Regions from separate parts of the Homo sapiens genome. Here regions 1, 2 and 4 are each linked to region 3. The links come from fine-mapping of genetic effects on gene expression. A gene starts in region 3. Each other region holds a variant in brackets. All regions are shown on one strand. Distances are from middle to middle.

Region 1 (8,104 bases), 100 kb after region 3:
GTAAGTACCACTTTCTCCATCTTGGTCTGTTATGGGATCTTTAGGGTGTTGCTTTTCTGGCCAGAAACCTCTGTGGCCAGTGGTACCTTTGCCCGAGTTCTTGTCCTGTGTCCAGGAAGAATGAGGTACACAGACAAGTAGAAGGTAAACAAGATGAAGAGGAGTTTTATTGAGTGTTAGAATAGCTCAGAGGAGACCCACAGTGGGTAGCTCCTCTCTGTGGGAAGGTCGTCCTGTTGAGTGTTCAGTTCTCAGCAGAGAGGAGGCCCTGGAGTGGGCGGTTCCTCTCTGCAGCTGGTTATCCTGTTGTCTGCCGCTATCAGCAGAGATGGTAGCTCCTCTTTGCAGCTAGTCATCCATCCTTTCTGTCATCTCTCTGTCCTCTGTCCTGCTCTGGCTGAGCCTGGGGCTTTTTTGGGCCTCAGAGCAGGGAAGTGCATGCTGATTGGTCCACAGGCAGCCATGCATGGGCCCAGGAGAAAGCACCATGATGTCCCCCTCTGGTCCTCAGAACTGGCAGCCCAGCCCCCAGGCTTTATGCCTGCCCTGGCCTGAAGCTGGGGCTTCACTGGGGACCCTCCCCCTTCTGCCCAGGAGCCTGTCTGCCTCCCGTGGCCATTCATGGCACCCAGGTTGCTGGCACCAAGGGGCACCTGCAGGCCAGTGCCCAGCTGCCCTCAACTCTCCTTCAGCTTCTCCTCCCATGCTCCTCAGTGCCCAAAGTCCAGAGGGGGCTGAAGGGGCAGGGGGCTGGCATGTCAGCACTGCCCCAAGTGTGTGCACACCTGGTTGGGCTGTGAAAGTGCCTGGGCTTGGCCCCACCTCTGCTCTGAGATCAAAGTGGGTGCCAGGAGTGGGGAGAGGCTAGGCAGCAGGACCAGAAACCACTGAGCCTGCAAGGACAAGGGTTCCTTCCCAGGCCCCCTCAAGAGTGCCTTCCCAGGCCCCCCCAAGAGTGCAGGGATGCCTAGGTCTGCAGCCCCAGTTTGGGTGGCTACAGCTGTGCCTGGGGCAGGGGCGGGGCTCCTGCCTGCTCTGCAGAGCGGGATGCCCAGATCTGCAGCCACAATTTGGGCGGCTGCAGCCCCCTCTCAGGAGGGCAGAGCCCCTGCCTACTCAGTGGAGCAGGAGGCCCAAGTCTGCAGCCACAATTTGGGTGGCTGCAGCCCCCCCTCAGGAGCACAGGGCCCCTGCCTGCTCAGTGGAGCGGGAGGCCCAGGTCTGCAGCCACAATTTGGGTGGCTGCAGCCCCCTCTCAGGAGGGCAGAGCCCCTGCCTGCTCAGTGGAGCGGGAGGCCCGGGTCTGCAGCTTTGGGCAGCCGTGCTTAGGGCAGAGTTTGCAGCAGCACCTGGGGAGCTCCCATCCCAACTTGGAAGAGGTGGGGCTCTCACTTGTCTCCAGCTCCCGCTGGTTCCACAGAATGTGCAACCCCAGCTGCACCTCCCTGTTGCAGCTGATGTGATGGCAGCGGCAGGCCGCGTGGCACAGCCACTGCCATCAGTACTAATACAGGTAAAATAGATATGCAGCAAATTAGGTACTTACCATAGTGGGTTGAAGAGTAGCCTGCCCTGCAAATTCATGTCCACTCAGAACTCAGAGGGCAACTTTATTTAGGAATAAGGTCTTTACAGATGTAATTAAGGTGATAATCTTGAGATCAGATTATCTGCATGCGGGGTAGGCCTCAAATCTCATCACTGTTGTCCTTATAAGAGGAGAAGAGGACACAGAGACACAGAGGGAAGGCCGTGTGAAGACAGAGCAGAAGGCAGAGATTGGAGTGCTGCAGCCACCAGCCAAGGAGGGGCGGAGCCACCCAAAGCTGGGAGAGGCAGGAAGGAGCCTCCCCAAGCCTTCCAAGGGAGCACGGCCCAGCCCACAGCTTAGTTTTGGACTTCTGTTCTCCAGAGCTGTGAGATAGTGAGTTTCTGTCATTTTACGCCACCCAGTTTGCAGTTACAGTGGCCCTAAGAAATTAATACCCAGGCACACACAACCAAATCCACAAACAGGATGGACAAGGCCCCCTCAGACATCGATGAAAGCTCCGTTTTGGCCCTGACTGGTTTCTCTTCCTCTTCCCTGGTGTGGTTAACCTCACTGACTGGTCCCAGCTTCACCTCCAGCTGTTGGTTACACTCCCTGACCCACACTGTTTCCCAATGGACTGAGGATTTCTAGATTATTCTCCATGGCTGTGAACATTTTCAGAGTTTGCAGTTCATTGTCAGCTAAATGCAGATTGAACTCTGAGTCCGAGATCACACCTGGCAGGTGCTCTCTGCAGAGTCACCCACTCTGAGCGCCGCCCAGGAAGTGTTGGTCTCCAGAATGCTCTGCCTCTCTGCAAGATGAAAAGAGTTTGAAAGACCTTCCCAACATGAGTCAGAGATAGAAGGATGTCCAGGCATCGTCACTCTTGAGTCCTCCCAGTTACTCAGCACCAGTCACACCATGACCACATCCTGGGCTGCTGGACCCAGCTTCCCCTCCCCTCCTATGGCCATCCCACTCCCTCCTCCACTCCTGTCCCCACCTCTCCATCCTTTACCACAGCAGTCTGGAGCAAGGTTTGCTGTGAAACTGTTTCTTTCTGTATGTGGCCAGTAAAAGCACTTTAAAAATTTGTTGAGTTTTAAAAATTGGGTGATTTTTCATTGTAAGTTGTGTGCAGTATTCCATTTGTCATCCCTGAGGAGGGATCAGAATGTCTGGACTGAACACTTGCACGACATTAGATTAGCTCATCATTGGTGCTGTGGCTGAGGCTAGCTCACCATTGATGTGCAAATGAGGCTAGCTCACCCTCAGTGTGTGGATAAGGCTAGCTTACTTCTGGAGCTGTGGATGAAGCTAGTCACCGTTGGAGCCACTGATGAGGCTAGCTCACTGTTGGTGCTGGTGCTGTGGATGAGGCTAGCTCACCATCAATGTACGGATGAGGCTAGCCCACTGTTGGAGCTACAGATGAGGCTAGCTCACTGTGGAAGCTATGGATGAGGCTAGTTCACCATTGCGTGTAGATGAGGCTAGCTCACCCCTGGAGCTTTGGTTGAGGGTAGGTCATCATTGTGTGTGGATAAAGCTAGTTCACTGTGGAAGCTGTGGATGAGGCTAGCTCACCCCTGCACCCATGCCTGAGGCTGGTCACTGTTGGTGCTATGCAGGATTCCATCCTCA[T/A]GCCATTCTGAAGGGGGCAGATTCTCCCCCTGGAAGCCACCTGCAGGGTGAGGGAGCACTGTCTCCCAGGTGGTTTCCTGGCAGGGACGGCTCCACTCTGCATCCAGCCTGGCTGTGCACCAGCATAGCTCACTGTGTTTCTTTCCTCTAAGATCATCCCCGCAGCTAAAACCCTGTGGCCACTTTTCCTGGGTGCTTTTCCTGCCGGAAGACAGTCCTGTTTAGGACAAACTTGCATTCCTTTGTTCCCAGCTGACTCAATGTTCAAACAATACAATAAAAAAGTGTCTTCCTTAAAAAGAAAAAATTCAAAACCAAACCCAGTCCTAAATTCTCACCAGGGTAACTATACTGGATTCTTTGGCTCCTGAAGCTCCCAAAGACCCTAAGCATGACATCTCCTCCTGGCATGTCCAGGTCTGGTGTCTGCAGGCATCAGTTGGGCCCCTGGAAGGTTCGCTGGAAGTGGTGGCCTTTGGGATGCAGTTGAACGCCTGGGTTGTGAAGATCTCTTTACTGGAGCAACTGGGGCGCACTATCTGTCTGGGGGTGCTGCAAGATGGGATCTTAATAACCACATGCTGCAGGTTGCCAACTGTCCTTCTGGCCTGTGTCCAAGACCAACGTTTCAGAATCTGCCTTGGTCCCGTGGGCCCCACATGCCCACTGCCTGGAAGAGCAGAGGGGACTCCTTTCCTCAGGCATTGCAGGCTTGGTATGCCCTTGGTCCCTGAGGCCACCATGTAAGCAGATGCCCTCACTGACACCCCTTGAACCCTGGAAGGGGGCCCCTGATAAACCCCCCATGGGGCTGTCTTTGAACTTCAGGGCTGCTGGAGCAAAATGACTTCCTGGGAAGCCCGCTGGCCTCGGACGCAGAAACCTGGATCCTGAGTGGGCTTTCTCTGGCGAACAGCTCCGGCTTTGGACAAGTTTATTAACCTCTCTGGCCCTCAGTTAGTCCATCTGAGACAGGGGCAAGGCCCAGGGTTAACCTTCAGGAGAGCCTACAGCTCCAGATTGAGCTGCCTCCTGCTTACAGTTAAAACATTGATGAAAATTTACCAAAACACAAAAACTGGCCAACCACACTAAAACTTGGTAGAAGAGCCAATTACTAAAGTATGGGACAGATGCTGATTCTGCCATCAACAGAAATGTGCTGAGCCGTCATCCCGAGCTGCGCACACTGCAGGCGGCATACTGAGCCGGAGGACGGAGGAGCAGCTCCCACTCACCCCACTGGCTGCTCACCCTGGGAGGCCCCCAGCTGCCCGATGTAGAGCTTCCATCCTCCTCCGGTCCATCAAGGGACCACCGAAGCCTGGACCCTGCTGGGTTGAGCAAAGGAGCTGGGCTTTTCCCTCCTGGTGCGTCACGTGACTTTAGGAAGGGCTGTGAGGCGGGCACCTGGAGGGACAGCTTCCTTTGCAGAAGAATCTCAGCCTCTCCATGACTGCTGGGGAGACCAAAGTCCCCAGCTTGGGAGCAGGCAAGATCTCACCTCCCAGATGCCAGGCCAGGGCTCTGCCGCCAGCCCTTGCTCTGGCGTAGATGGTGGAGCTTGCACACAGCGGGACCCGCCCCTGCAGAATGAAGGCAGCCCCAGAAAGAAAGGGCGAGGACACCATCTAAATTCCTCCCTGGACAACAAAGATCACAAGCAAAGCTCTGTGAACTGGGCAGGGCAGGGAGGCTCCATCAGTGTTTGCTGAGTGAATGAATGCAGGAAAAGAAACTTAAATCCTGAGAGGGAAGAACAAACCTGATAAAGCATCTCAAATGAGCAAGAGAACAGAGATTAAAATGACAAGAAAACCATTTGCTCAAATAATAGGAAATAAAGATACACATTAAAAATAAGAATTGACAAATAAGAGACCAGACCCTGTGAAACTTCTTAAACATCATTGGAGAGCACTTTCACAATTACCAAGGCTGTGTGAATTTTCTTCTTGATTGTTCCTTTACTGCTGATTTTTTGTTTTAATGAGTTATGGTGAAATATGTTGCTATAAAGTCTATCTTTTGGACTTAATTAAAGCTTCTTTTCCCGTGGTATGGGAATTTTTTTGGTAAGCATTCTATGAATGCTTAAAAAGAAAATTTAGAGACGAAGTTAAATATCTGCTAATCAAGCATAATGCTGAGTATAATTTATTGAAGGTTTATTTGGTGCCAGGAAGATGATGTTCGCACCCATTTGTTCAAGACAACATTTGAGCACCTGCGTTGTGCCAGGCATGCAGCAGTGAATCACAAGGGTGATATTCTTTGCCTTTCTGAAGCTGCTATTCAATAGGGCTGTTCTTACGGATCTTCTCAGTTAACTCCATGAACTTAACACCTTGGACGGAGACTTAGGTTAAGAAACTTGTCCAGTGACACACTCAAAATCAAGGGCAAAAGTGGATTTAAAACCAGGCCTTCTATCTGGTTTTAAATGCCCACGTGCTGAACCACTGCCTCACATGGCTTTCCTCGACCCGACCAACATATCTCTGGAAATAAGTGCACCCTTTCTTACTCCTGATCTGCCCGCATGGTCAGAAGATCTGTGTTAAAATTTGTCACAAAAATTGAGTTTCTATTTGCTCTCGCATTTCTAAGTGTGTTTGATTTATACAAGGCTCATACAAAAAAGTGTGTGACAGGTAGTGTTTTCATTAAGGATTCTTATTATCAATATAGGTTTCCCTTGGACCCATCTAATGAATTTTAACTGTGACTTTCATTTTATTTTCTATAGTTTTCGAAATTCATGTTTGCTTGTTTTGGCTGATATGTCCTTCCTTGATGTATTTTTAATCCGTTTTATTGAGTTATAATTTATATTCAATGAATTTTACCGATTTTAGGTATACAATTAAAGGAGTATAGCCTTGGGCATAATCAAGATACAGAACAATTTCATGATTCCAGAAAGTACTTTCATCTCCTTTGCAGCCAATCCCGTTCCACCCAGCCCTGGCAGTGATCGGTCTTCTCCCTGGTGCTGCAGTTTTGCCTCTTCTAGAGTTTTAAGAATGAAATCATGTGCTGTTTCCTCTCTTGCATCAGACTCCTCTATTCACTTTATGCTTGTGAGATTCATGCATGATGTTCCACGCAGCCATAATTGTTTCTTTCTTGTTTCTGAACAGCATTCTATTGTACAAATACTGCACAATTTGTTAATCTGTTCCCATGTCAGTGGACATTTTGGTTGCTTCCAACTTTTGGCTGTTAGCAATAAAGATGCTATAAACATTCACATAAATATCTTTTTGTGCATAAAAGTGAAGTTGCCAGATCATTTTGTAAATAAGCAACTGCCAAGCTGTGGTTCCAAGTGGGTTGTAGCACTCTGTGTTTCCACCAGCAACACAGGAGGGTAGAGTTGCTCCACTTTCTCACCCACGCTTGGTACTGTCTGTCTGCTTAATTCCAGCCTCTCTAGTGAGTACACTGCGGAATCCCACTGTGGTTTTAGTTTGCATTTCCCTAATGACTGATGAAGTTGGGAGCCTTTTCATGTGCTTATTAACTATTCATATACCTTCTTAAGTAAAATGTGCATTAAATCTTTTCCCCATTTATTTAATCAGAATGTTTGTCTTCTTATTATATTGACTTGTAAGAGTCCCATATAGTTTGGATGTGAGTCCTTAATCAGATAGATGTGAAAATATTTTCTTCAAGAATGCATCATCCATCTTAAAGTTATAAATAGTGCCTTGAAAGGAACAAATCTTTTTAGTTTTCATAAAGTCTAATCTATCAATTTTTTTGGCCTACTTTATGTCCTAAATAAGAAATTTTTTCTAATCATCTGTTTCTCCTATGTTTTCTTACAGGAAATGTTAGGGTTTTAGCTTTTATATTTAGGTTTACAGTTCACTTCAAGTTAATTTTTGTATGTGGTGTGAGGTAAGGGTAGAGGTTCTTTTATTTTACACAGATATACCCATGGTTCCAGCACCATTGCTGGAAGGCTGTCCTTCCTTCCAGTGAATTATCTTGGCACCTCTGTTGAAAATCTAGTGACCACATATGCTCGAGTGTTTTTCTGGGCTCTGTTCTGTTCCATATATCTACACAGCTGTCCTTATGCCAGTGCTGCACAGCCTTGATATCTGTAGTTTTATACAAAGCCTTGAAATCAGGTAGCATATGTCTTCCAACTTTGCTCTTTTTACTTAAAGAAATAAATGTTTTGACTATTGCCCATCCTTTGCATTTCTCTATAAATACCAAATCAGCTTGCTGAATTCTACAAAACAGAAAGCTGCTAGAATTTTTCTTAGGATTGCATTAATCATAGATCAATTTGAGGAGAACTGACATCTTAATGGTATAGACTTTTGATTCATGAACATGATATAATGTTCTATTGAGATAAATCTTTAATTTCTGTGTATTTTTCTTCTTTTTCAGTGCACTAGTCTTGTACTTTTTTGTTATACTAATTTTACAGTACTTTGTATTTTTATTTTCTTATAAATGATAGTTTCTGAGAAAGTTCAATTCCCATTTAATTCTTGTTAGTGTATAGAAATACAATTGAGTTTTGAACCTTGACCTGCTCTTCTTCAACCTTGCCAAACTTACTTATTTCTCCTCATAGCTTATTACTAGATCTTTTCAGATTTTCTCTATAGAAGATCTTATCACCTGTGAATTAAGACAGTTGTATTTCTTCATTTGCAACCTGTATGAATTCCATTTCTTTCCCTTGCCCCATTGCCCTGGCCAGTGCCTCCAGCACAATGTCCAACAGAAGTGGTGAGAGCAGACACCCTGGCCTCACTCCTGATCATAGAGAGAACGCATTCTGCCTCCTTAACGTAAATTATATAAGCTGTAGATTTTTAGTAGATGTAATTTGTTGAGTTGAAAAATCCTTTGTTTCTCCTGGTTTCTGGAAGTTTTTTTTTTTAA
Region 2 (8,104 bases), 120 kb before region 3:
TAAGCTTTCAAAAGAAACCTGTTAATGAGGTTATATATCTTGATGCAAAAACTATGGTGATACTAAAGGGAAGTACAGGGGGAAAAAGAGATATGTTTAAGAATTAACAAAGCGTAGCCCTAAATAAATACTGGATGTCAGGGCTACAAGAGAAGAATGTCTAGGCTGCCTGCCGAATTTCTGGCTTCTGTAAGCGTGCTCTTGGAGGTGTAGGCAGGAAGAGCAGCAGGCTCAAGGGACAGAGACGCGGCTGTTGCACAGACTCATGGGATCTGAGATGCCTTTCTGGCATTCAGGTGGATAAACTCCATCAGCAAGAGTTCCATGGCAGCAGCTTGGAGGAGGACGGGGCGGGAGTCAGGTTAGGCATTTCCAGCAAAAAGAGGGCAGCTGGAGCCTGCGGTGTGAATGGATTCACTCAGGGGATGGTCAGAGAGTTCACTCAGAAAGGACCAGAGAGGATCAGGAGCCAGGGGAGACTTAGAGGTATATGTTTTGGTGGATTATGTGCTTTTTAAGGTAGGTGTGGCTAAGGGGCTGGGTAGGAAGGAGATTCAGAAGAGAGGATGATCATTGATTAAATAGGTTTTCAATGAGAGTTTTAGTAAATCCAAGGTTCTAAGGGTGAGTTTCTCCTTAGACAAGAGGACAGACACCTTGTCCTCAATGAGAAGGAAGGTAGGAGGACAGAGTAGGGAAAGGCTCCCCCATGGAGCTCTTGGGCGTCTCTGCGTAGGTGAGTCTCAGCCTCAGTCGGACCCATGTCTTGGCAGAACACTCTGTGATCCTTCCTGGGATTCAGCAAGCAGGGCAGTCTCGTAAGGGTCATCTGTAGGTCATTTTCCATCCACTTCCCTGTCCTATAGGAGGCTCCCTGTCTTGTGAGGGGCTGCCACAAGACACTGTCTTATCCACTTCCCTGGTTCCAGTGAGAAGTAAAACTTTCCACATGCCCCCCTTAGGGCATAGCTCCAGCTATAAAGGTGCTTGGTTGTATTTTAGAGTGAGATATCCCAATGGAGCAACCCACTCCTCATGTCTGTCATCTGGCTTCTCCAATTTGGTGTCATCCTAGGGATGTGGAAAGCTGACATTATGATGATGTTGCTTATGCCGTTAGTGTAAGTGATAAACAGTCTAAAACCATCTCCATATTGACCAGATCTATGTGGTCTGAATGTAGGTTTCATGTTGCAGCCTAATATCCAATGCGATGGTATTAGAAAGAGCAGCCTTGGGAGGTGATTGCCTCAGGAAGGTAGAACCCTCATGAGTGGCATTAGTGCCCTTATAAAACAGACCCCAGAGAGCTAGCTGGTCCCACCCACCCAGTAAGGACACAGCAAGATGGTGCTATCTGTGAGCCAGAAAGTGGGCCCTCACTAGACACCAAATCCATCTTGACTTTGGACTTCCCAGCCCCCAGAACTGTGAGAAATCAATTTTTGTTGTTTATAAATATTCAGTCTGTGGTATTTTATTATGGTAGCCTGCATGGTCTAAGGCGTGTGGCCACTCAATTTTGTGATGAAGTCAGTGGTGCTGCTGGGGATAGTGTAAGGCTTGACAGGAAGTGTGGGCAAGAGGGTGGGCAAGACGGTGCTCATTCTGTCTGAGAAGTAGGCAAGGTGTTCTAGGGCAGTGGTGAAGACAAAGTTCAGGAGATGGTGAATGTTTTGAAAGGAAAGTTTAATATGTTTTCAAATTATTTATTTGCTTTTTTTGAGAGTGGATCTCACTTTGCAACCCATGCTGGAGAGCAGTGGCACCATCATAGCTCATTGTAACCTGAAACTCCTGGGCTCAAGCCATCCTCCTGCCTCAGCCTTCTGAGTAGCTGGAACTACTGGTGCACACCAGCACTTCTGGCTACTTTTTTCTTTTCTTTTCTTTTTTTGTAGAGATGGGAGTCTCACTACATTGCACAGGCTGGTCTCAAATTCCTGGCCTCAAGTGATCCTCCCGCCTCAGCCTCCCAAAGTGCTAGGATTACAGGCATGAGCCACTATGCCTGGCCTAGAATGGGTAGTTTAGAACAGACCAGCATCTCTGCATGTGCCTGTGTCCTGTAGGAAAGACCCAAACTCTCTGGAGGTCTCGCTACCCAAGGAAACATGAGCCTGGCCGGCTTCTGGATGTGGGGAAGCCTTTCACAGAGAGCAGGGTTCCCCATTGCTGAATTAACCTCTTGTCCTGAAAGAAGTAATGGTCTCGTTCTGGGACATCTCATATCCCTCATGGTCCCAAATTGGGCCCTGTGCAGCACAGATAGAATTGAGGAGGAACCTCTCAGTCCAGAGGGACGAAACTTCACCTAGAAATGAAGCAATATCTTTCTCAGCAGCTGCTCACTGAAAAAGTAGGGTGCCTTGGCTAATGTGAAGGGTGGGGTCCCAGAGATGAGGCCTCCAGAGGTTCTGGCGGGAGAAACACGTGGGATTTTGTGGAGTACAGTTCAAGAGCCATAGGTCTGCTGCAAACCCGCACTATGACTGTCTCATGGAAGAGCAAACGAGGACACTGAGGCTCTGAGCAGTGAAGCAATATGCCCGGAAGCAGGCAGGCAGACAGTGGCAGGACCAATGCCGACAGCCGGTTTCTGAGTCTGGAATACCAAGTTTGTTGGGGAAATGTTCCAAATAGGTGTCAGGAGGGCACAGGGCCAGGGCCAGGTGAGATGTGTGCAGAGCAAGGTGGGAATGAGGGGTCCCTGAGGATAGCACTGGGGTTGAGGTGGAAGAAAAAGGGAACCCGTGCCAAGCTCTTCTTTCCTTAACAAATGTTTACCGAGTATCTCCTCCGTGTCGGTGTGACATTAGGTGCAAAGGACAAGGCAACGGGGACTGTTTCTGTCTGTGTGGCACATCGAGTCCTGTGGAGAGAGACTCCCAGCAAGGAGTAATGCTTTTGCATATAACAAGACTTACACGTGACTATAGATTCCACTTGCACCATGCTTTTCGTGGACTCATTTGTTCAGGGATGTGGATGTAATTGACATTCCATTTTACTAAGCACATCGTGTTATTCCATTCTCATGACAACACCCGGTTTATGGATGAGATATCTGGAGGTTGCATGGTTTTCGTAACTTGCTGAGGGTGTCACAGCTGGGAAAGACAAGAACCAGGGTTCCTACCCAGCTCTGTAGGAGTCAAAAACCCAGGCCCTTGGCACCTGCACAACACCTCTGCCTCATTTCTCAGTGAGCTCTTGTTTTGTCTGCTCTCTACCCTTGTGCCCCCACACGCTGTCATCTCCTGCCCTCCTTTGGAAGCATGAGGCTGGGGGTCACAGAGGGAAGCTGGCCCCTCTGGAATGGTCCAGGTCTGTTCAGTGGATGGGAGGGGCATTGGGCTGCAGAGCTCAGCCCAGGGGTGCACATCTGGGAGCCTGTCAACCACAGGGTCCGCCTGTAGACCCAGCAGAGAGCATCGTCACAGGAGCCAGCCTTGGCCCGGGACATTCAGTTAGAACAGCTCATTTATTTGGCAAATTCCACTCCCAAGTTGGAAGTCA[T/C]GTTAGGATTTGCTCATGGGTGCAGGGTATTTCTGGAACATTGAGTGCAGATGAACAATGAAATTCCTCCCTGGAGGGCACCTAGGAGAACTTGCGGGCTTATTAAAATCGCAGCAGTGGGGAGATCACTTCACTTCACAAAAGCAAACAGCAAGGTCACTTAAAAATTGTTGCCTCTTTTCTCTCATTAAAAAAAAAAAGGAATGCTTGCTTGGAGCTAGGGCTATCTTGACTTTCAGCCTGCCAGGCAAAGGGATGCTCACGTCATGGACCATTATCTGATTGTAATCTACGAATTCAGAGAAGTTTCTGGGTAAAATCATAGTGGGAAAATCGAGTTTTTGGATCTGTGTCTTCAGAACGATGCAGTTATGTGGAGGAAGGCACTCCCGGGCCTGGGCCTGCCTTGCAGCGGTGAGTTACTAAAGCTGGAGAGTTCAAACTCTCCAGCTCCGTGCAGATGTAAGTTTTCAATTAGGTTGCCTGGGTCCAAGATTAGTCAGAAACACTGCAGTAAAACTTAATCCAATCATTCTGATTCTTCTCCAAACATGATTTATCTTATGATCATCAGTACTTCGATGAAAGGGGAAACGCCAGTTCACTTTTTTTTCCCTTTGCTGTGATTCATGTGTCCATTATCCCAGAATCTGAGTCCTGTTTCAGTTTGGCAATAGCTTCCTTTGGCATTCTATTTTTGTATGATCATTAGCATTCCTTTTTTCCTAAGCTTTCATAACATTCAAGTCAGCCTTTTATATCCTTCCCCAGAAGGGCTGGAGATCTTGTAAGCTCCCGCTGTAAGCAGGGCCTGCCTAACCTTAAATGTGAAACATGTTTTAGTGCTGAAGTCATTCCTCAAAAAGCAACGTGAACTTGGGAGGCTGTGCCTGGCAGAATTCAAAGTGCCCCGTGGAGAGACTGCGGGGAAGGACAAAGAAATTGGGACCTGCCTGAGGCCATGAGTCCAGACACAGGCATGAGCTCCTTTCCTGTGCTGTGGAAGCCAGTGGGACAGAGGGTGTTGTGCTGAGGAAGCAAGCCAGTAGGACAGAGGGTGTCACCCTGGTCTTAGGGCCAATCAGTCAGGCACAGAGCATGGAGTTCAAGTCCTGCCTCCGTTGCTAATTAGCCAGGAAATCTTGAGCAAGTGGTCCCACCTGCAGTGCCTCGGTTTCCTCATCTCTCACATGAGTCTTCCTCACGGGTGGTTTTGAGACTCAAATGTCATAATGAGCATGAAATGCTGAATATCTGACCAGGCAGGTTGGATACATTCGATGTCCCCTTAGTGAGCCCCTACTGTGTGCTAGTCCTGGAGGTGCAGGGATGGAAGGTGTGGTTCCTCCCTCCTGGGAGCTCCCAGTGTAACTCAGCAGTTACCAGTTGGAGCTGTTCTGCCCCTAGGAGACACTGGATATCGTCTAGAGACATTTCTGGCTGTTGTGATTTGATGTCAGGGAGCTGCTGCTGGCATCTAGTAGGTAGAGACCAGGGATACCGCTAAACACGCTATAATGCACAGGACAGCCCTGCCCCCAGAGCAAAGGATTATACAGGCCCAAGTGTCAACAGTGTCGAGATTGAGAAACCCCGGTCCAGCTGAAGAACTTCATGGGTGACCAGGCCGTTGAAATTCAATATGACGAGGGTCTTAGTAACAGGGTGAACTCAGGGGGCAGAGAGACCACCCCTTGTTTACTCTGTCTCAGTCATTGGGTCAGACTTAGTATGACACCCATGAGGCTCCCAGTCCCTGCCCATTTTTCAGGAGAGCTGAGGTGGTCCAAGCCCAGTTTAGCACACAAGAGGGCTCCTTCAACGACCCCCATACCACCATCTAAGAAAAATCTGCCAAAACGTGTGCAAAGTATGACAGCTGCTCTGTGCCAGGCACCATGCTAGCACTGCTCCTGCCCCTGCCCGGTCAATAACTAGTGCATGGCCAGCCTGGAGCTCCTGCCCCTGAAGCCTGAGCCTTGGCCATGATCCCAGGCAATGTCTCCATAAAGACGCCTTAGGACCTCGCGGCCTAGGCACTTTTCTTACCCCAAGTCTTCCAGAACCACGGATCAGGAAGAGGTACCCAGAGCCCTGGAAAGCTCCTGGGTTGCTGAGTTCTGGGAAGAATTCCTTCCCTCCTCAGTAGGGACCTCAGACAGAAGGAGCCGTGGACGGCCGCTCTGTTAGCTGAGGCTTAGCACAGCCTGCCCCTCCCTACATCGCTGCTGGGACCCAGCTTGCTGCAACACAGCGGTTCTCAGAGTGGGGTCCCCCAAAGGCAGTACCAGCGTCACCCGGGGACCTGTTAACTATGCAAAATCTGAGACCCTACGACCTACTGCATCAGAAACCCTGGGGATAGGGCCCAGAAGCCTGTGCTATGAAGAGCCTTGTAGGTGAGTCTGACGCGGGCTGGAGTGTGAGAACATGCCTGTGGAAGGCAAGCCCCTGTGGGTGGTCAGGTAAGTCCTTCCACTGCTGACAGTGCTGGGCTGAATGCAGCTGGGTTCCCTGGGAGCCCTCTCAGTACAGTCTCTCCCGCCTGCCTGGGAAATTCACCTTCAACTCCACGAAGCCTCAGCTCCCCTCTGCAAAAAGCACAGAATTGCTTTGAAGTTAAACCATGTGGCAATCATGATCATAAAATTCTTAGGTTGGTGCAAAAACTGCGATTACTTTTGCACCAATCTAATAAATTCAGCCCCCTTAGTAGAAGGCTCTAAGTTGAAGAAGTTTACTATAGTTCCTCTGTTTTGGTAAAAAGCAACATTGAATCAATGCAGGCAGCAAGCAGGAAACATTTAAAATGGACGCCAGTGAGTCAAGACATGGAGCGCTGAAAATGCTGGGACTGCATTGGAAATGTGCATAAAACTTAAAACAACAGAGATGAGAAAGATACATTCTATCTCCATCTGGCAAGTTAAAAAAAAAAAAAAAACCAGAATGCTGGTCGTGCTGTATCTTGAGTTTGGTGATAGTTACAGGAGTTTATTCATTTGTAAAAATTCATTGAGATGAATGAATGCATTTAAGATTACATATAAAGAATATAAATTGTCCAGGCACTGTGGCTCGTGCCTGTAATCCCAGCACTTTGAGAGGTTGAGGCTTGAGGATGACTTGAGCTCAGGAGTTCAAGAATAGCCTGGGCAACATAGCAAAGCCCTGTCTCTGCAAAAAATAAAAAATAAAAAAAAATTTACTGGGCATGGTGGTGCATGCCTGTAATCCCAGCTACTCAAGAGGCTGAGATGGGAGAATCCCTTGAGCACAGGAGGTTGAGGCTGCAGTGAGCCTTGATTGCACCACTGTGCTCCACCCTGGGCAACAGAGCAAGACTCTTTCTCACAAAGAATAATATAAATTATGCCTATATGTCTATAAACATTGAAAAAAATTCTGTATTTTACAGTTTGTATGTTACACTTTAAAGTATTTCAGGTTGACAAAAAAAAAACAGATAAATGAACTTTTGGTGAAAGAGCAAGGAGACTGAGACTTTCAGGAAGTGGTACAGGCACAATGCATGCTGGGAACGGAATGGGCAGGTGGAGAATGGCCTTAGGAAGCACTGTGCAGTCTGCACCACTAGTGATGAGCTTGTGAGTGTATGGTCAAGGCAGAACTAGGTATGGACTTGTAAAATCTATTGACAATTACAACTTAGCCCTGAATTTGAGAAAGCTGGAAGGAAGTCGTCTGGAGGACTTCTTGGGTGAAAAGGCGTGCAGTAACCAGACTTCCAGACTTTTATTTACAACTGGGCATTAAAGCCAACGCTTAGTCTCAGAAGGTTGTGGTGTGAATTAGAAGCCACCTGGGAGTTGAGCAAGACTGACTCAAACTCCAGTTCCAAGCCCTGGGACAATCTAATGCTGTTTCGGAAAGTCTATAACTTCCTCATAAAGTTTCTGGGTTTTTTCCCCTTTTTTTAAAACTTCTTACAAAATGAATACACATTTTTTTTAGAACAGTTTTAGATTTACAGAAATACTGACCACAGCCTTTTCAGACTGGCTTCTTTCACTTTGCAATATGCAATTAAGGTCCCTCCCTGTCTTCACAGTTCTGTGGTTTTCTTCTTGTTGCTCAATAATATTCCATTGTATTGATGTACCCGTTTGCTTGTACAACCACCCATTAAAGAACATCTTGGTTTCTTCCAGTTTTTGGCAATTATGAATAAGATAGCTATAAACATTTTTGTGCAGGTCTTTGTATGGATATACTTTTTCAATTCAATTGAGTGAGTACTTAGGAGCACAATTGCTGGATTTTAGGGTAAGACTGTATTTAGCTTTGTAAGAAATGGCCAACTGCCTTCCAAAGTGGCTGTACCATTCTGCATTCTTACCAATAATGTATGTGAATTCTTGTTGCCCTGAACCCTCATCAGCACTTGAAATTGTCAGATTTTTGGATTTTAGCTATTGTAACAGGTGAATAGTGGTGTCTCGTTGTTTTAATTACAATTCCATAGTGACAAATGGATATGAACATCTTTTTATATACTAATTCACCATCTGTACATCTTTTTTCATGAGATATCTGTTCAAGTCTTTTGTCCATTTCTAAATGA
Region 3 (8,104 bases):
AACTGAAAAATGCTTTTACAGTGACCCCCAACCCTCACCGCTGCTCTATCACACTGGGGAATGTGCTGGATGATTGAAATCTTGGGGGGTGGCAGGTGGTTGCAGGTAGGCATAAAGTATTGCCAGAATAAAGCCAACAATACATGGCACAAGGATAGCTTTTTCCCAGACAGCATATTTCTAGCATTCAGCAACATGATGCTGAAGACCCCTAGAATCTACACAGAAATGCCAAAACTTTGTCAGATAATTCTCAAGAGTCCATCTCTGAAAACTTGTGGTTTCTTAAAATAATGGGTCATGTTCACTGTCATCTCAGTCTACGAGAGAATAATTCAAAATGAAGGCACCAAGACTAGTTTGATGGAAAAGTGTCAGTGGAGCGCTGTGTTAGTGTAAGACTGCTACTGCGCCAATGCTATTTGCTTTGCAAATAAGGAAGTGCTGTTTGGGAGATGCTGTTACCAACCCCCGGATCAATGTCATTGATTCATTAATCTGTTGGATTGATTCTGTCACACAAATATGGGCTGCTCTGTCATCTGCTCTCAGTTCACTAAATTCAAGTGGAGGTAACAACCCACCATGTCACTGGGAATGGAAACTAGACCTTTAACGATATCTTGGTTTTTGTCTCTTGCTCCAACAAGAACTTCATAGAGTTAAACTACAAAAGGATCTGCTGAAGAGCTCAGGTGGGTTCACCCGTGCAGGCATTTTGACAAAAGGTAGCGACAACAGCATTCAAATGTATAAATTCATTGCTTTATTTAGCTCCTGAGAGTTTACTAAATTTTTTTCACATCTGAGCAAGTACACAGTTTCTTATCCTAAGAAAGCCCAGGGGCTGTATAATTGCGTCGTATTCTTTTTTCTTTCTTTTCTTTCTTTTTTTTTTTTTTTGACACAGTCTTGCTCTATCGTCCAGGCTGGAGTGCAGTGGCATGATCTTGGCTCACTGCAACCTCCGCCTCCTGGGTTCAAGCGATTATCCTGCCTCAGCCTCCCGAGTAGCTGAAATTACAGGCATGCACCACCACACCCAGCTAATTTTTGTATTTTTAGTACAAATGGGCTTTCACTATGTTGGCCAGGCTGGTCTCGACCTCCCAACCTCAGGTGATCCACCTGCCTTGGCCTCCCAAAGAGTTGGGGGATTACAGGCGCGAGCCACCGTGCCTGGCTGCTATTCTTGAAGACTATCCCCAGGTGACAATCCCTGCAGTGTCATTCTACTGCAGCAAGATTAAAGCCAATCTAATAGCTGGCAAATTTGCTGTGAAAACATATCACCTTCTGTTACTTGCTGCCCTAAGGAAAATGTGCAATAGAAGAATCTTTCAGAACACCAGTTCATTTTTTTTTAAAAAACACAAAGTCACATGAAACAAAGCACACTTTTTTACATATATGAAAGGAAGCATTCACAGGATTTTCCATACTCAGTAATGAATAAGTACCCCAAGAACTGTATTTACTTCTGTGAATCTTTGTTGCGTGATATTTTACTGAAGTCCAAGTGAGCCTGGGTGGTCCTGCAAAGAGTATTCACACAGAGATATATTGTATTACTTATGCTATTAATAAATTGGCTTTATTAGCCTTATCACTGACTTAATTTTTGAAAGAAAAACTCAAACTAAATCAATAACCTGAGTATTATTTCCCAAATTGATGACATTTTCATTTGGGTTTTAATTCAGCAAATTCCCCTCCTCAAAAGAGGGGAATGCTGTCACTTCCCCAGCCAACATACAGGTGACATTGGAAACGCTGCTAAATGCCACTGTGCCTTAGCTTCTCCTATGTATGCAAGGGGTCACTGCCCAGGTAATGACTCTGAGGGGCTGGCAATACAGCATAAGAAAGTCACTCCAAATTCTGTTAAGCAAGGTTTTCCGCAGGCAGCCGTCAGTATCACAGCCTCCAGTACTATAATCATTGTTAAAGCATTTTAAAATAGACAAGACACGCCATGAAGAAAGTGCATCCAGACGGTTGAACTGGGCTGCTGGTTATGATAGCTCCAGGGCGCCCCGGGGGGTCGCAGGTGAAATCCTCCAGGTCCATCTCCCCAGGCAGAGGTGAGCCTGCAATCCAGCTTGCGCTGCCCTTCCAGGGCGTCCCCGGGGCCTCTGGTCTTCAGGGCTGGGCTGAGCCCTGGGCTGCTCAGGACCAAAGCTGAGCTGTTTTTCTTTCAAACTAAACTATGAACTCTCTCTGCTGGAGAAAGAGACAGAAAGGACAGAGAAAGAGACACGCCGACAGAGCCAGAGTGACACAGGGGCACGCAGACAGGGAGACGAGGATGGCGAAGCAGGCTACCAGGCAGGTCCTCTCCTCAGTAAAAGCCCTCCGCATCTGGGAAAGGGAAGATGTCCCTGGATCTGGGTCCTTGGACCCACACAGGGTTGGTAAAAGGGCAGCAAATCGCTACTGTCACTGCTCTGAGCAAAGAAACCAGGGAAAGGCCAGTTCGGGAAAAACAGGCCCTTTCCATCTGACGTGAAGCCCCAGGAAGGGCTGCAGCCCAGCACCGGCAGGACGGCTGGGGACCTGGCTTCTCTCTCTCTCTCTCTCTCGTTCCTTAAATTTTTATTTGAGAATTTTAAAGAAAGGGACCTGGAAAGCTATTTTGTTGGGCTAGAGGGGCCGTGGGCCTTCCCAGCGCGGAGGAAGGAGGGCGGTCAGGCCGGGTGGGGCTGGGTGCGGTGGCTCTGCAGAACCTTTAGGCACCGAACTGAAGCCGCGGGTCCGGTGCGCGGACACTGCGCAGGGCGCTGCTACCGACTCACATGCATGCGAGGGCCCGCTCCTAGGCGTTCTGCCTTCCTGGACGGATTGTTGGTAAAACGTCCCCTAGAACGGCCGGAGCCAGGGCCCTCGGACAGGGGCGCGAAGGGCCCGCTCTTTGCCGTCCTCGGGTTTCCCAACGCGGTGGTCGTGGCCCGCGGGCCCCACCTCGCGGCCCGCCTGGCCGGCCGGAGGAGCAGCGGAGGCCGAGCACTCCCCGGTCTCGGGTTCAACTTCAATAAAAGGGCCCAGCCCGCCCTTGATCACGCGGCTTGCCTGACAGCCCGGCTCAGGCCCGGGCCTAATTGAGCCCGGGTCACCTGGGAATAGGTTCAAAGGCATCAAAGCCGTAAAAACCACCTCCAGGCCCAGAGCCAGAGCGGCCTGGCGAACAAAGAGCCCCCCAACCACTTCAAACGCGCTCGCGCTCGCCGTCCAGATGGCCCGGGGCCGGGGTCCGTGGTGTCGCTCACCGAGGCCGGGCCCCACACTCCAGCCACCCTGAGCCTCCTGCTCGGAGCTGCCCGCGGGCTGCCAGCGCAGCGGAGGCTGGGCCCGGGGCAGCCTCGTGCAGCTCCCGGAGCGCCCTCCGTCCTCTGCTGACCCGCGAAGCGAAGGCGGAGCGCAGAGGCTGGGGCCGTACAAGGCGGGCCGGCAGGCGCCCCAACCCGCGCCCAGCAACCCGGGTAGGGCCAGGCAGGCGGGCGCGGCGGGTACCGGGCGCTCCCGCAGAGGCTCGCTGTGGCGTTGTTTTAAAGCTGTTAGAAGGAAGGTTCGGGAAGGGCGTCGGGGCCGGGGCTCCCCAGCAAGCCAGGGTAAGAAATGGTCCCCGACACGCACGCTGGCCGAAGGGTGGCATCTCCACGGATCTTGGCGGCATGTCCTTGGGCACGGGCGTCTCCAGGGGGCCCCGACTGTCCTTACACTGGCGGTCCGGACACCGAGACCCCTGCCCGCGCAGCTCCCCAGACCCCAGGCCTAAGCTTGCGGGCCGCGGTGCAGACTAGCTGTGCGCCCGGGGGCGGCCAAGACCCACACAGGTCGAGGAGGCTCCTGGCTGCGTCCTCATCTTCTGGGAGCGCATCTGGGACTGGACTCGCCTCTCTAGCCCCTCACGCCCAGAGAGAGAACCCCCCAAAGCCCAGTGGGGGCCGATCTCTACGTTGAGGCGTAGACAAAGCCAGGCTTGGCCGGGCCTAGGGCTCGGGGCGGCCTGAGAGTGCCCTGCGTTCGGGGTGGGGGCGCGGGCGGCGGGCGAGGACCCGGCCCCCGGGATGCCCTCCGCGCCGGGGCCGAAGGGGGAGGCAAAACTGAAAGTGCCGCGCCGGGGGGCGGGGGCGGCCGGCGAAGGCCCCAGAACTTGTCCTGCCCCCGGCCACCGCGGCCAATCAGCGCGCCGCCCTAGCTCCTGACAACTATTTAGCAACCCAGCCCAGCTAGAGTTTCCAAAAAAGTTAGAATAACTTCCTCTCCCGGAGACCTCGGTTTTGCACAAGCCGGCCTTGAAATCAGAGCCTTTCCAGCAACTCCGAGAGCGTGTGCTCGGCGACCGCGGGCTTGGCCAGCGGCGCGCGCTCGGCGCCCCGGCGCCCCCAGCCCCACGCGCGCCGGGCGGGCGCCATGGAGGAGGGCTCCAGCTCGCCCGTGTCCCCCGTGGACAGCCTGGGCACCAGCGAGGAGGAGCTCGAGAGGCAGCCCAAGCGCTTCGGCCGGAAGCGGCGCTACAGCAAGAAGTCGAGCGAAGATGGCAGCCCGACCCCGGGCAAGCGCGGCAAGAAGGGCAGCCCCAGCGCGCAGTCCTTCGAGGAGCTGCAGAGCCAGCGCATCCTGGCCAACGTGCGCGAGCGCCAGCGCACCCAGTCGCTCAACGAGGCCTTCGCGGCGCTGCGCAAGATCATCCCCACGCTGCCCTCTGACAAGCTGAGCAAGATCCAGACGCTCAAGCTGGCCGCCAGGTACATAGACTTCCTCTACCAGGTCCTGCAGAGCGACGAGATGGACAATAAGATGACCAGCTGCAGCTACGTGGCCCACGAGCGCCTCAGCTACGCCTTCTCCGTGTGGCGCATGGAGGGCGCGTGGTCCATGTCCGCCTCCCACTAGCGCCGCGCCACCCACCTCCGGACCGGCGCGCCAGGGTAGGTGCTGCGCGCGCGACGGGCGCCCTCCGCTGCGGGGGGCGGGCGGCAGGGGCGCAGGGGCATTGGGGCCTGCTCGTGTCTCCTCGGCGAGGCCCCGCGGGCCGCGGGGGCTTGGATGCCGTGCGCTTTTCCTCTTAGCAAGGAAGGCGGGCGGGCGGGACGCTCACAGTCCCAGGGACACCCCTGAGTGCAGACTTCCACGCGAGGGTGTCAGTTGGGAACCGGCGGACCGGTGACTCCCCCGGCGGGTTCTGAAGATACTTAGACAGATGGTCGCAGTTTTCATTCTCGGTGGTGTGTGGGTGTCCGTGGTTGGCGGTGGAAGGAGCGAGCATCAGAAAAACCTCCTGGGGCCGGCTGGGGACTGGGATATGAGGACCAGCTGCCCTTTGCGTCCGCCGCAGCGCAGGCCGCCCGCGAAGCTGCCCGAGCCGGGTGTTGCCGGGCGAATGGCTTCGCTTTCTTCCTGGGCAAGGGTAGAGCGCGTCCGTCGGGCGGACACTCAGATCTACCCAGCTGCTCGCGCCTGGGGTCCCCGGCCGTCGGCGCCCTGGCCTGCCCAGTGGGCGTAGAGGTGCGGGCCTGCGGCTCCAGGGTTTGCCTGGGGAGGACGGGAGGAAACTGCCCTGCGCTTCGGGGCCAGAGCAGCCACAGGGCCGGGTGTGCCCGAGAAGGGCCCTGGGCCGAGAGCGCAGAGCCTGGAGCGCTGAGGCAGGCGGGTCCGACGCAGCCGCGCGGAGCCCCAGGGCGCCCGCAGGCAGGTGGAGCTGACCTAGGAACTGGGAGCCCTGAGTCCCAACCTTGACCCTGGAGTACCCGGGAGGGGCCCCGCCCATCCAGCCCCGCAGGGATGGGCGAGGGGTCCAGGCTGGGAAACGGGTCTGGGGGACAGGGAGGCTGTGCGCGCCGGGCCCTGCGCGAGGAGAAGGCTCGGGGGACACAGCTGCCAGGAGCACTCCAAGTTCTGGTTTCCTCTGGAAGAGCGATTAGGGCGTCCTGCACCGGGTCCTTTTCACCAGACACCTTCCAAGTCCCTTTAGACAAGCTCGAGCCACGGAGGCGCCGTCCTTAGGCTCTGTGAGCAGGCGAGCCCCTCTCTCATCCGCCATCCAGGGCCATGGAGGGGCACAGAGTTCTTTTTGCTGGGGCCGAGTTAAAAATCCTTCCCCCTTAGTATGTTTTAGTTCCTCGCACATCTTGCGATGTTTTTATAAAAGACTCTACTTCACACAGAAGGAATTTAGATTAATCAAGAGCACCCGGCCGCCTATTCTCCCAAACATATCTATTTCTTTTTTTATGTGGTTCTATAATATCTGCGAATGTTGTTGCTGAGGCCACGAAAAGCTGATCCAGCACAGGTGGGTTTTATTTCATTTTTTTAGCTTTTATTTTGGTGTCACTGAAAATTCTGTAGCTGCAGAGCCTCCTGAGATAATGATAATTGTATAGTTTTTAAAAAATAATTTTCAGCAGAAAATAACTTGTGGGAATCTTCTCCTGTCTTTGTCAAAAACAGATGGAAAGTGTCTCAATCACATATTTCTCTAGGAAAGTTTGGATTGGCTGAGTACTAAACGCTACAGTGGGGTAATACATTAATTCTGGTTTTTGCTGCCTAAATAATGAGCTTCCATTAGTTACTTCCATTTATGCTTTACCTCATTCATGGTTTATAGCACATCTGAAATAAGAACAAACAGATGAGGAATGTCATCTTTTTAAAAACACACACATTGAGCCGTGTTTAAGGAAAATGTCACTTTAATTATCGTTAAGACTGCCCTCCAGAAAATTACTGAAAACAAATACCAGTAGATATGATGCTGCTAGAATTTAGTAGGAACATTTAAAATTCATTTAAAAATAATCGCACTCCTCAAAACTTAGAGAATCAGCCATAGGTAACCATTAAAGATTATAGAAAAATAAAATGCAATACATGTAATAAATAAATAAAAACAGTGCCAAGAGCTTGTTTGGAAAAAAGCCCTTGAAAATATAATAGATAATTACACAGTTAGTGGGAGAGCTGATGATCTATAAGGAGCCTATTTATTTTTATTTTTACATACTGGACTATAACTGAGTAGTTCAAACAAGCTAGTTTCATTAAATAGATACTCTAAAAGAAGAGAAAAGAAATATGGAAAAATTTTATCCATGAATGATTCTGGACACACCTTGTTTTTATTTATCAGGCACGTTAGGCAGACATCTTGTCATTCTTTTTGTCTTTAACTCATTATTCCCTATAAGATCAATACGATTATAATTGGTTTGATTTCCTGAAAATGTTGCTAAACAGCATTTGTTTTTATTTGTAGCATTTCTAAGAAGCATTAATTATATGCATCAGCAAAGAATCTCTAGACATTTCAGTACATTGTAAGTGATTTTAATGTTTGATGTGGGATGTTTTCACGTATGTGAAGAAAACTGTCAAGACTAACAGCAACAGCAGCACAAAGCCTAAATTGTCCTCTGAAAGGAAGAGAAACGCAAGAGATGGTGGAGTGCGGGTGCTGCCGATATCTATCCTGCCTTTCTTCTTTGGCCTGGTATTTAAAAGCACAATTAGACAATAAATCAGGTGTCTTTGTCCAGTCAGTTGGATTCATCTAATAGAAAAATCTCAAAAGGATTTTTTTAGTATTCTCATTAAATGCCTGAGTCTTCGGAGCAGGGTCCCAGACACCTGGCTTGGAGGGTGGGGGAAGGTGACCATTACTTATCAGACATTTGTCCTGTTCCCTGCTGTGTGGTTAAAGAAAACATCTTCTCTAACTTCTGCATAGTGTGCACAGATTTTCAGTAGATTTCCTCACTCAACAAACTTTTTTTTTTCTGAGAACTTTTAGCTACTTTGAAGAAATTGCATGACCCCTTCACCATCTAATATATGTGAGCCTTTTCCTCCCTCCTGAAAATTTACTTCTCATAGGTGTTTGTTAACTGCTGTATTCAGGATGCTAGAAAATCAGTTCTTCGTGGAGAAGAACAGAAATGCAGAATCCCAATGGAGCTTTTGCTTGCCTAGAAGAAGTAGAATGAAAGGCTGAGCTCCCTGGAATATAAGCAATGTTTGGTTACAAAATACCCATCAATAAGATCTGATGTAGGGATTTGACCTGTTAATGTGGGTCTTTCCCCTTAAATATCAGCAGTCC
Region 4 (8,104 bases), 62 kb after region 3:
GTGTGTGGTTTTCATACGCATGGGTTTCAGGGAAAATACGTCTTGGCTTTTTCAGACTGTTGCCTTGGTTCAACAAAGGTTCCTGGAGGTCTCTGAGGACCTGGGCTGCTGGGGTGAAGCCTGGGGCTGGGGGTTGGGAGAGGGCTGGGGGTGAAGGAGCGGAACCACACGTCCCCCCTGCACACTGCTGTGCGACATCAGACACCCACGCCCACAGGGACACACACGGACCCACGCACACAGATGCACACACCCACACAAAAACATGCACACTGACACTCCCACAGGGACACACACACAGACCCACTCAGGAGGATGTACATGCTTACACACACACACTGACACACGGACCCACTCACGTGGATGTACACACTTACAAACATGCACACCAGCACTTCCACGGGAAAACACATGCACTCACACGGATGCGCACACACACATACACATGCATACTGACACTCCCACAGGGACACACAGACCCACTCATGGATGCACATGCTCACACACATGCATGCACACTGGCACACACACGGGCCAACTTACACGATACACATGCTCACACAATTTACACAACTTGCACATGGACACACACTCACTCTGGACATTCTTTCATACTCACACTCACTCTCACACTAGTGGGCACACTCACAGACACACACACGGGATGTCACCGAGCACCACGTCACCCGTCCCTCCAGCTTCCACATCCTCCCCCCAGTGCCTGGGGCCTCCCTGGACCTCCTTCCCTGTGGCAGAATCCTCACGGTGACCCCTCTCCTGGCGGCCGCCTTGGGGAGCCCATGCCTGCCTCTGGGCTGACACCCACCCCTCCCACCACGCTCAGCCGCTCTGCGGGAGGAGGGTCTCGTTGCGCTGGTTTGCCCCTTGGCTCAGGGGAGTTCTCCAATAATTCTCGCTGAACACTCACCTCCCGCGAGCTCTGCAGGTCAACTGGCTGTTCTCATGTTTGTGCAAGAGGTGTGGGAGTGAGCACTTACACGGCCAGGCCCTGTGGTGAGCAGTAAAGGTCCCAGGTCGCAGGGCCAGTCTTCAGCGATCCCTGCTAGAGCTCAGGTCTCCTGGCAGGACAGCAACACAGCCTGGGGGCTGCTGCAGGCTGGCCTGGGTGTGTGGCAGAAGCGGCCCTGAGGCGCGGCGCGGGGCCCACCTGTGTTCGCCACACTCCCGACCAGGTGCTGATGCCAGTGGCGTGTCCCCTGCCCTGTGGGCCCCACTGAGGTGGCCCAAGACCTTGGGCTTATGACACCACATCCCTGTACACCCTGGGTCTCAGACGCTGGCCCCGGCCACCTCTCAGCACCTTCTCTTTGAGCTTGGCAGGCACAGAGGGAGGCGCGGGATTGGGGTCCCCACCCCGGCTTCCTGGAGGACCTGGACTTTCCTCCTGCCTGTGTCTCCTCCCCCTGCAGGTGGGAACCAGGCTCTGGGTAGCGCCTGAGCGGGTTCTTTCCCCAAGGCGCTCCCGGGACAGCTGGTTGCAGCCCCAGAGCTGCACCAAGCCTGGCACACCCACAGTTTGATTGGCCCACAAGTGCGCTTAGAAGTCACTTGTGTGGCATGAGGGGACCTTGTGGGGCTGGAAGAATTGTGTGTCTTGATCATAGTGGGGGGTGCAAGAAACAACACGCATGATGAAACTGCAGGAAGTACACATACACCACTCACACACACACACAAATGCACACAATACACACACAAACACACACATAAACGCACACAACACACACACAAAAACACACAAACACTCCACATACCCACTTACACACATAAACACACACCACGCGCCACACAAATATACCACACACTACACACACACCCCCACACTGTACATACACACCACATACACACACACCACACAAACACACTACACCCCCACTTACAAACACACACCACCTACACCACACACAAACACACATCACATGGCACACAAACATACCACACACTACACACACACCCCACATTGTACATACGCACCACATACACAAACACATACCACACAAACACACCACACCCCCACATACACACACAAAGTCACGCCACATACACCACACACCATACAAACATACCACACACACAGACATACCACATACACATACACATAGATACCATACCATACACACTACCCACTACATACCACATATACATACCCCACACCACACACACATACACACGCCACACTGTACACATATACCCCCCATACAAAATACAATCCCCCAAACACACACCACATACACCATGCACCATACATACCACACACTACACACACACTTCACACTGTACATAGACACCACATACACACACATACCACACACACAAACACACCACACCCCACATACACACAAACACAAACCACATGCACCACACACCACACAAACATACCACACACTGCACACACCACACATACCACATACACACACATGCACACACATACAACATACCATGTACACTACACACTATATACCACACATACATACCCCACACCACACACACCCACACGAGTGACATGTGAATAAGCTCTTGGTCCATACTGGTGCCAGATGCCTGGGTGTGACGTGACGACACCACTGTATGTGTGGCATATAATGTGGTATATAATATACCATATGGTATGTTGTCTGTGTGGATATGTATGTGGTATGTTTGTGCAGTGTGTGGGGTGTGTGTAGTATGCAGTGTGTTTGTGCTGTGCAGTGTGTGTGTGGGTATGTGGGGATGTGGTGTGTTTGTGTGTGGTATGTGTTTGTGTATGAGGTGTGTATGGACAGTGGGATGCGTGTGTAGTGTGCGGTATGTTTGTGTGGTGTGTGGTGTGTGTGATGTGTTTGTGTGTGGGAGGGTGTGGTGTGTTTGTGTGGTGTGTGGTGGTGTATGTAGTGTGTTTGTGTATGTGGCAGTGTGGTGTGTTTGTGTGTGTGGTATTTGTATGTGGTGTGTATGTACAGTGCGGGGTGTGTGTAGTGTGTAGTATGTTTGTGTGGTGTGTGTGTGTATGTGGAGGTGTGGTGTATTCGTGGTTGTGGTATGTGTATGTGGTGTGTATGTAGTGTGGGGTGTGTGTAGTGTGTGGTATGTTTGGTGTGTGTGTATGTGGGGTGGGGTGTGTTCGTGGGTGTGGTATGTGTATGTGGTGTGTAGTGTGGGGTGTGTGTAGTGTGTGGTATGTTTGGTGTGTGTGTGTATGTGGGGTGGGGTGTGTTCGTGGGTGTGGTATGTGTGGAAACTGGGTGAAAGGCACATGGGACATCTCTGTGTTGT[C/T]TTTGCAACTTCCCGTGTGTCTGCAATTGTTTTGAAAGCACGCATTTTAAAGCAAGAATCCGCCGTTGACAGCTCCCGCCAGCGGCTGACCCATTTCTCTGCGTCCTCCTCGCTGGAACCCAGCCCTCTGCTGCCCGAAACCCCACAGCTCCCTCGGGCCTGCACGGGGCCAACGTGCCGAGCCTCTCTTGTCCCCAGGCAGCCTGTTCTGAGGGGCTCACCCACAGCCAGACCGCATTCATGGCTGCGCTGAGCACGGGCCAGGGAGAGGCCCCGGGGTGGTGAGTGTGAGAAAGGGCACTCGGGGGCAGGAAAGGGCACTCGGGGGAGGGAAAGGGCTTGGCCTGGCCCAGGGGGCAGGGGTTGCGGAAGCCTGGGCTGGCCCCGTAGCAGTCACCTGCCCAGTGTCTTTTGGGAGGAACATGAGTAGAACAGAGCCAGCTCTCTCAGGGCCTGCCCCGTGTCCCGTCCCACCCAGCCTTGGGACAGTCTCAGGACGATCCTGCAGGAGGCCGAGCGAGGCGGCCGTAGCTCACGGTCCCCCTTCCGTATCTTCCAGGCTGTCCGTCGCGTCGGCGGCGCAAGTGGAATTGGGATGCATTCGAGTCTGTAACTTCTGAAACCTGAACAACCTCAGGAGGCCCCCACCTCTGCCCTCCACCAGCGTCGAGAGAAGGGACAGCAGTGACATCGGACAGAAGACCCGGGCTCCCGTCCTCCCCCAGGACGGTCCCCACATAGGAAGGGCACTCCCAGCCCTCTTGCTGGTGACATTGTCATGGTCATCTTGTTTCTGTTTGGATTTTTCTTCTGGGTCTTATGTTTGGGGGGAGGTTTATTCTTTCTGAAAATGTCTAGATTCAGGAACACATTTATGAGGATTTGGATTTTGAATTTGTATTTCCCTCTAAGTGCCTTTTTTAATGTCTATTTTTTTAATAAAACAGAAATGCATTCTTGTACAATTCTGTTGAAACTGGACCAAGGCTCTCAGAAGAGGACCCCCGAGTTCCTTCCCCTCCCCCGAGCCTCTGCATGATTGTTTCAAGTCAGCCTGGAATTCTTACTTTCACGCCGCTATTCTTTTCCTTTCTCCGTGATTGCTTGGCTAGCCATTTAAAAAAAAATATTCTCTGTTCAGTGTATATGTTGCTTGTTTGTTTTATTTATTGAGATATTTTTACAAGCTAAGTGACTGCAGTGTGGCTGTGTATCCTGCTCCCCACCCAGGAAAAATAAAGACGTCCGCGCAGCCATGGTCTCCCCATCTCTGTTCTCATCTCTACTTCGCAGCTCAGGGCTCTGCCTGAGAGAGTCAGAACAGGTTGCAAGAATCACTATTACTTCACTTTAAAAGGCACGAGAGAGGATGTGAGACATTTTATGCTGTGCATGTTTGTAGAAATTTCTAGAAACTACCAACTCTAACATGGTTGCCAGTGTGAACAGACCGAGGCCTGGGAGAGCAGAGGGGGCCTCAGCCCTTTCCCAGTGCCTAGTCCTCTGCTGCTCCCCAGCAGCCTCAGCACAAGAGACCATTGCTGTCACACCCACGCCCCGCTCTTGATACAGAAGCGTGCCCATTCTGTGAGCCACCCCTGCTGTCCAAAGTCCGGGCCAGCCTTCCCTGCTGCTCACCCTGGGTGGTATTCCCTGCTCTCCCAAGCATGGCATTCATTTGTGCCACCACCTCCCTGCTTCTCTGAACGAGTCACCGTCTGCTCCACATGCATCCGTGCCATGTTGACCATGAGCTCACCAGGCAGCTGGCTAAGAATGGAGCACCTGGGTGTGCAGGTTAGGTTGGCATCCTGCCCAGAAATCCCAGAAGGAACATGATCTGCCATCAAGGAGAGTCAGCCTGGGTCTGGTGCAGGCGGGCACCTCTGCATGAGGGCAAGGGCTCTATGCCCTGCCCGCTACCTCCTTACCATGCCAGCACCCATGAGCACTGGGGGCTGGGTGTTGCTTGTGGACCCCAGGGTGGAGGCTTCCAGCTCTGGAGACTGAGAGTCACCAGGTCACTACCCTGAGCCACCAAACGCATGTCTCCTGGGGGACATCTGGTACCGGGGTCTGCTGGGTGGAGCTGCCCACCAAGCAGTGGACACACAGAGCCCACCCAGCTCCTAGACAGAGGTTCTGGAAGTAGGGGTCTCTGGCAGGATGGTGGTGGCTTGCGAGCCTCATTTCCCACTCCCACCCTGTCCCCAGGTCCACCACGGCAAGGACAGGAGCTCCGGAAACACCAGCATGGCCTCAGCTTCCATCTGGCTCCTGTTGGTGACCTTGATGCAGCACTGGCTTCCACTGGGGCTGGCATCACCGGGAGCGCCTGTCTAGGTCACAGATCCTTGAAGCACAAGCGCCAGAACCCACTGCATGCAACAAGCACACAGACACACACACACACACGCCCAGATCGCACATGCACATGCCACACACATGCATGCACACACACCACACACACATGCACACCACACACACATGCATGCACACACACCACACACACGCACACATCACACACACATGCATGCACACCACACACACATGCATGCACACACACCACACACACGCACACATCACACACACATGCACACACACCACACACACGCACACACCACACACACGCATGCACACACCACACACACATGCACACATCACACACACACATGCAGGCGCACAGACCACACACACAATGCGTGTGAACACACTTGGCACACTTCAAACACACGCACACGTACCCAGGTCACATGAATGTATGCACATACAACCAGCATACACATGCACACATGTGCACACACGAGACTCTGGGGAGATAGAATGGGGCAGCTGTGGTCCCAGCAGTGAAAGGCCCTGCCCTCCCCAGTACTGTCTGGCATGCTCTGCTGAGGCCCGTGGAGGCCACGAAGACTATGAAGGCCACGGTGCCCTCCCTCCTGACGTGATTCAAATAGAAATAATCCCAAGTCATGTAATGCAAAGCTGGCGGACAGTGGGGCCAGAGGAGCCTCTTTCTTGGTTTCCAAGTTGAAAACTTCGTTATTCCTCTGCCCGGTGCCCTGAGCCTGGTTTCCTGGTGAGCAACAGCCTCTTGTCACCTCTGTGGGGGACCCAGCCCTGTGAGTGCTCACACCGAAGCCCCAGGCAGAAGGGGCAAGGAATGAAAGGGCCCCGTGCAAATGAGGGGGCACCCTGGCCCCACGTGGGAGGTCAGGGATGGAGTTCAGTGGGGGCCTCAGAGCAGTGACCAAGCCGGGGGGGTCATCCCAGGGCCTCCCTGCGGCGGCCGCCTCTCCGGGCATCACCGCCTGCTGCCTGTTCCCAGCCCAACTGCTGCACACTCTGGTAGCCACATCAGGGTGTCCTCCTCCCCCAGCCCTGGCCTCTCCTGGGGTCTCTCCTGGGGCTTTTGTCTCCAACTCTGGGCATCCAAGGAGCGGGTCACCGACACCTTAGGCTACGTGGAAATACGCGGCTGTGGACACGGGCTCACTTCCTGTTTTCACCCCCACACACACATTCCTGGAAGAGGTGCCGAAAGACGCTGGCTTCCGGAACACGTGTGTGTGTGTCTATGGTTCCATACGCACGCTGGCACGCGTGTATTTGCATGTGTGTGATGCATGTCTATGGACTATGGACGCAGGTACCTGCTCTCCCATAACCTGCTGCTGGCTCTCCTCCCCAGGCATGTCGTGGGGCCACTTCCCTGTGCTGGCTCCTGCTCTGGGGTCTCACAGCTTCTCTGGGGTCAACCAGAGCCCTCTGCAGTCACGGCCCTGAGAACAGACCTGAGTGAGCTGGTGTGCACATGTTTTCAGGGTCAGATGACTGGTGAGTCCGCAGAACAGGAGACTGTTCCGAGCCCCAGGGGCTGTCTAAAGGAAAACCTACCCCAAACCCATCTCACTTCCGCCTGTGTTCAAAGGCAGCCCGACGGAGTCCCCAGCTGTCAGGTGACCAGGTCAGCCTGAGGAGCCTGGGTGCAGACATGTGGGGTGAGGGGACCTGGAGGGGGCGGCAGCACTGCCGGGACCCCTGCACCCAGCCAGGCCCTGGCATCGCAGACCATCCTTGAGGGAGGGCCGCTGGCCAGGCAGGTGGGGGCCTTGAGTCTGAATTTCCCCGCAGGGCGAGACATGCTGGGGGCGGGGGCTCCTTTGCAGGTCCTCAGCCTCAGGTCTGAAACACAGCCTTGGGCCTGTGCAGTGGCCAAGACCAACACGTCTTGATGGAAAAGTCTCACTCTTTGATTTTGAAAGTGACTGCAGACAGAGGTGGGACTTCCAGGTTGTAGCTGATGGAACACAGGCCCCATGGGAGCCGGGAGTCATGCGGCAGCAAAGAGGCAACGGGAACTCAGCCCCAGGTCAGCCGTCTCCCTGCAGCCCCAGTGCCATCTGCAGGATGCTGTGTGGCTCTGAGTGACATAGTTTGGAGGGTTGCTGGCAGCCCTGAGCACCCCAGAAGAGGAGGTGGGGACCCTCACAGGAGACCAGACAGCCTCTGGGTAAGGCAGAGTGGGGATGGGCTGTCTGGAAGAGTGAGGCCTGGGTGGGCAGGGTGGGTCCTGGGGAGAGGCAGTATATTCCACGTGGCTACAGAGGCCAGGTGCAGCCTTGTGTTATCCTGCACCTGCAGGGCCATGAAAATGGCTGTCAGTCATAGAAACGGTGCCATCGGAGGCTCGTCGAACACCTCACTGTGTGTGGCATGGGTATGCCTGTGGGCCGCCACACGTAGGGGCCAACGTGTACAGAGGCAATCTGCCCCACAGATGCCTTCAACCCACAGGCTAAGATGCCACGTCGTCTGGGGCCAGGAC

Alleles and levels. Positions count from the first base shown, and alleles are read on the strand shown. Sizes are in standard deviations (SD) of each study's normalised expression. Not every link is listed here.
In carriers of allele C in region 2, the expression in fibroblasts of the gene that starts at base 4,283 in region 3 tends to be higher than with T alone (small effect, 0.29 SD a copy in GTEx).
As copies of C replace T in region 4, the expression in whole blood of the gene that starts at base 4,283 in region 3 goes down (large effect, 1.5 SD a copy in GTEx).

The links.
Region 1: its variant is fine-mapped to the expression of TWIST2 in whole blood (INTERVAL, PIP above 0.99).
Region 2: its variant is fine-mapped to the expression of TWIST2 in fibroblasts (GTEx, PIP 0.93).
Region 4: its variant is fine-mapped to the expression of TWIST2 in whole blood (TOPMed, PIP above 0.99). The same link has a PIP of 0.9 or more in neutrophils.

What each region holds. Positions count from the first base shown.
Region 1 is chr2:238,946,185-238,954,288 of GRCh38, forward strand. No RefSeq gene overlaps it. Among named protein-coding and RNA genes, the nearest start is that of LINC01940, 24 kb to the left of the region's middle. The variant T/A (reference allele first, on the strand shown) is at 3,185.
Region 2 is chr2:238,724,696-238,732,799 of GRCh38, forward strand. All of the region lies in intron 1 of LINC01937 (long intergenic non-protein coding RNA 1937), which reads left to right. Among named protein-coding and RNA genes, the nearest start is that of LINC01937, 8.8 kb to the left of the region's middle. RefSeq lists an enhancer at 5,769-6,268. The variant T/C (reference allele first, on the strand shown) is at 3,520.
Region 3 is chr2:238,843,803-238,851,906 of GRCh38, forward strand. TWIST2 (twist family bHLH transcription factor 2) reads left to right here and starts at 4,283. Exons shown (of 2, transcript NM_001271893.4): 1 at 4,283-4,931. The coding sequence starts at 4,414. The coding sequence ends at 4,896. It overlaps LOC100287387 (a long non-coding RNA gene), which reads right to left and starts at 4,105. Exons shown (of 1, transcript NR_157851.1): 1 at 744-4,105. RefSeq lists enhancers at 2,219-2,729, 2,730-3,240, 4,774-5,283, 5,284-5,794.
Region 4 is chr2:238,906,007-238,914,110 of GRCh38, forward strand. It overlaps TWIST2 (twist family bHLH transcription factor 2), which reads left to right. Exons shown (of 2, transcript NM_001271893.4): 2 at 3,836-4,528. Among named protein-coding and RNA genes, the nearest start is that of LINC01940, 16 kb to the right of the region's middle. The variant C/T (reference allele first, on the strand shown) is at 3,277.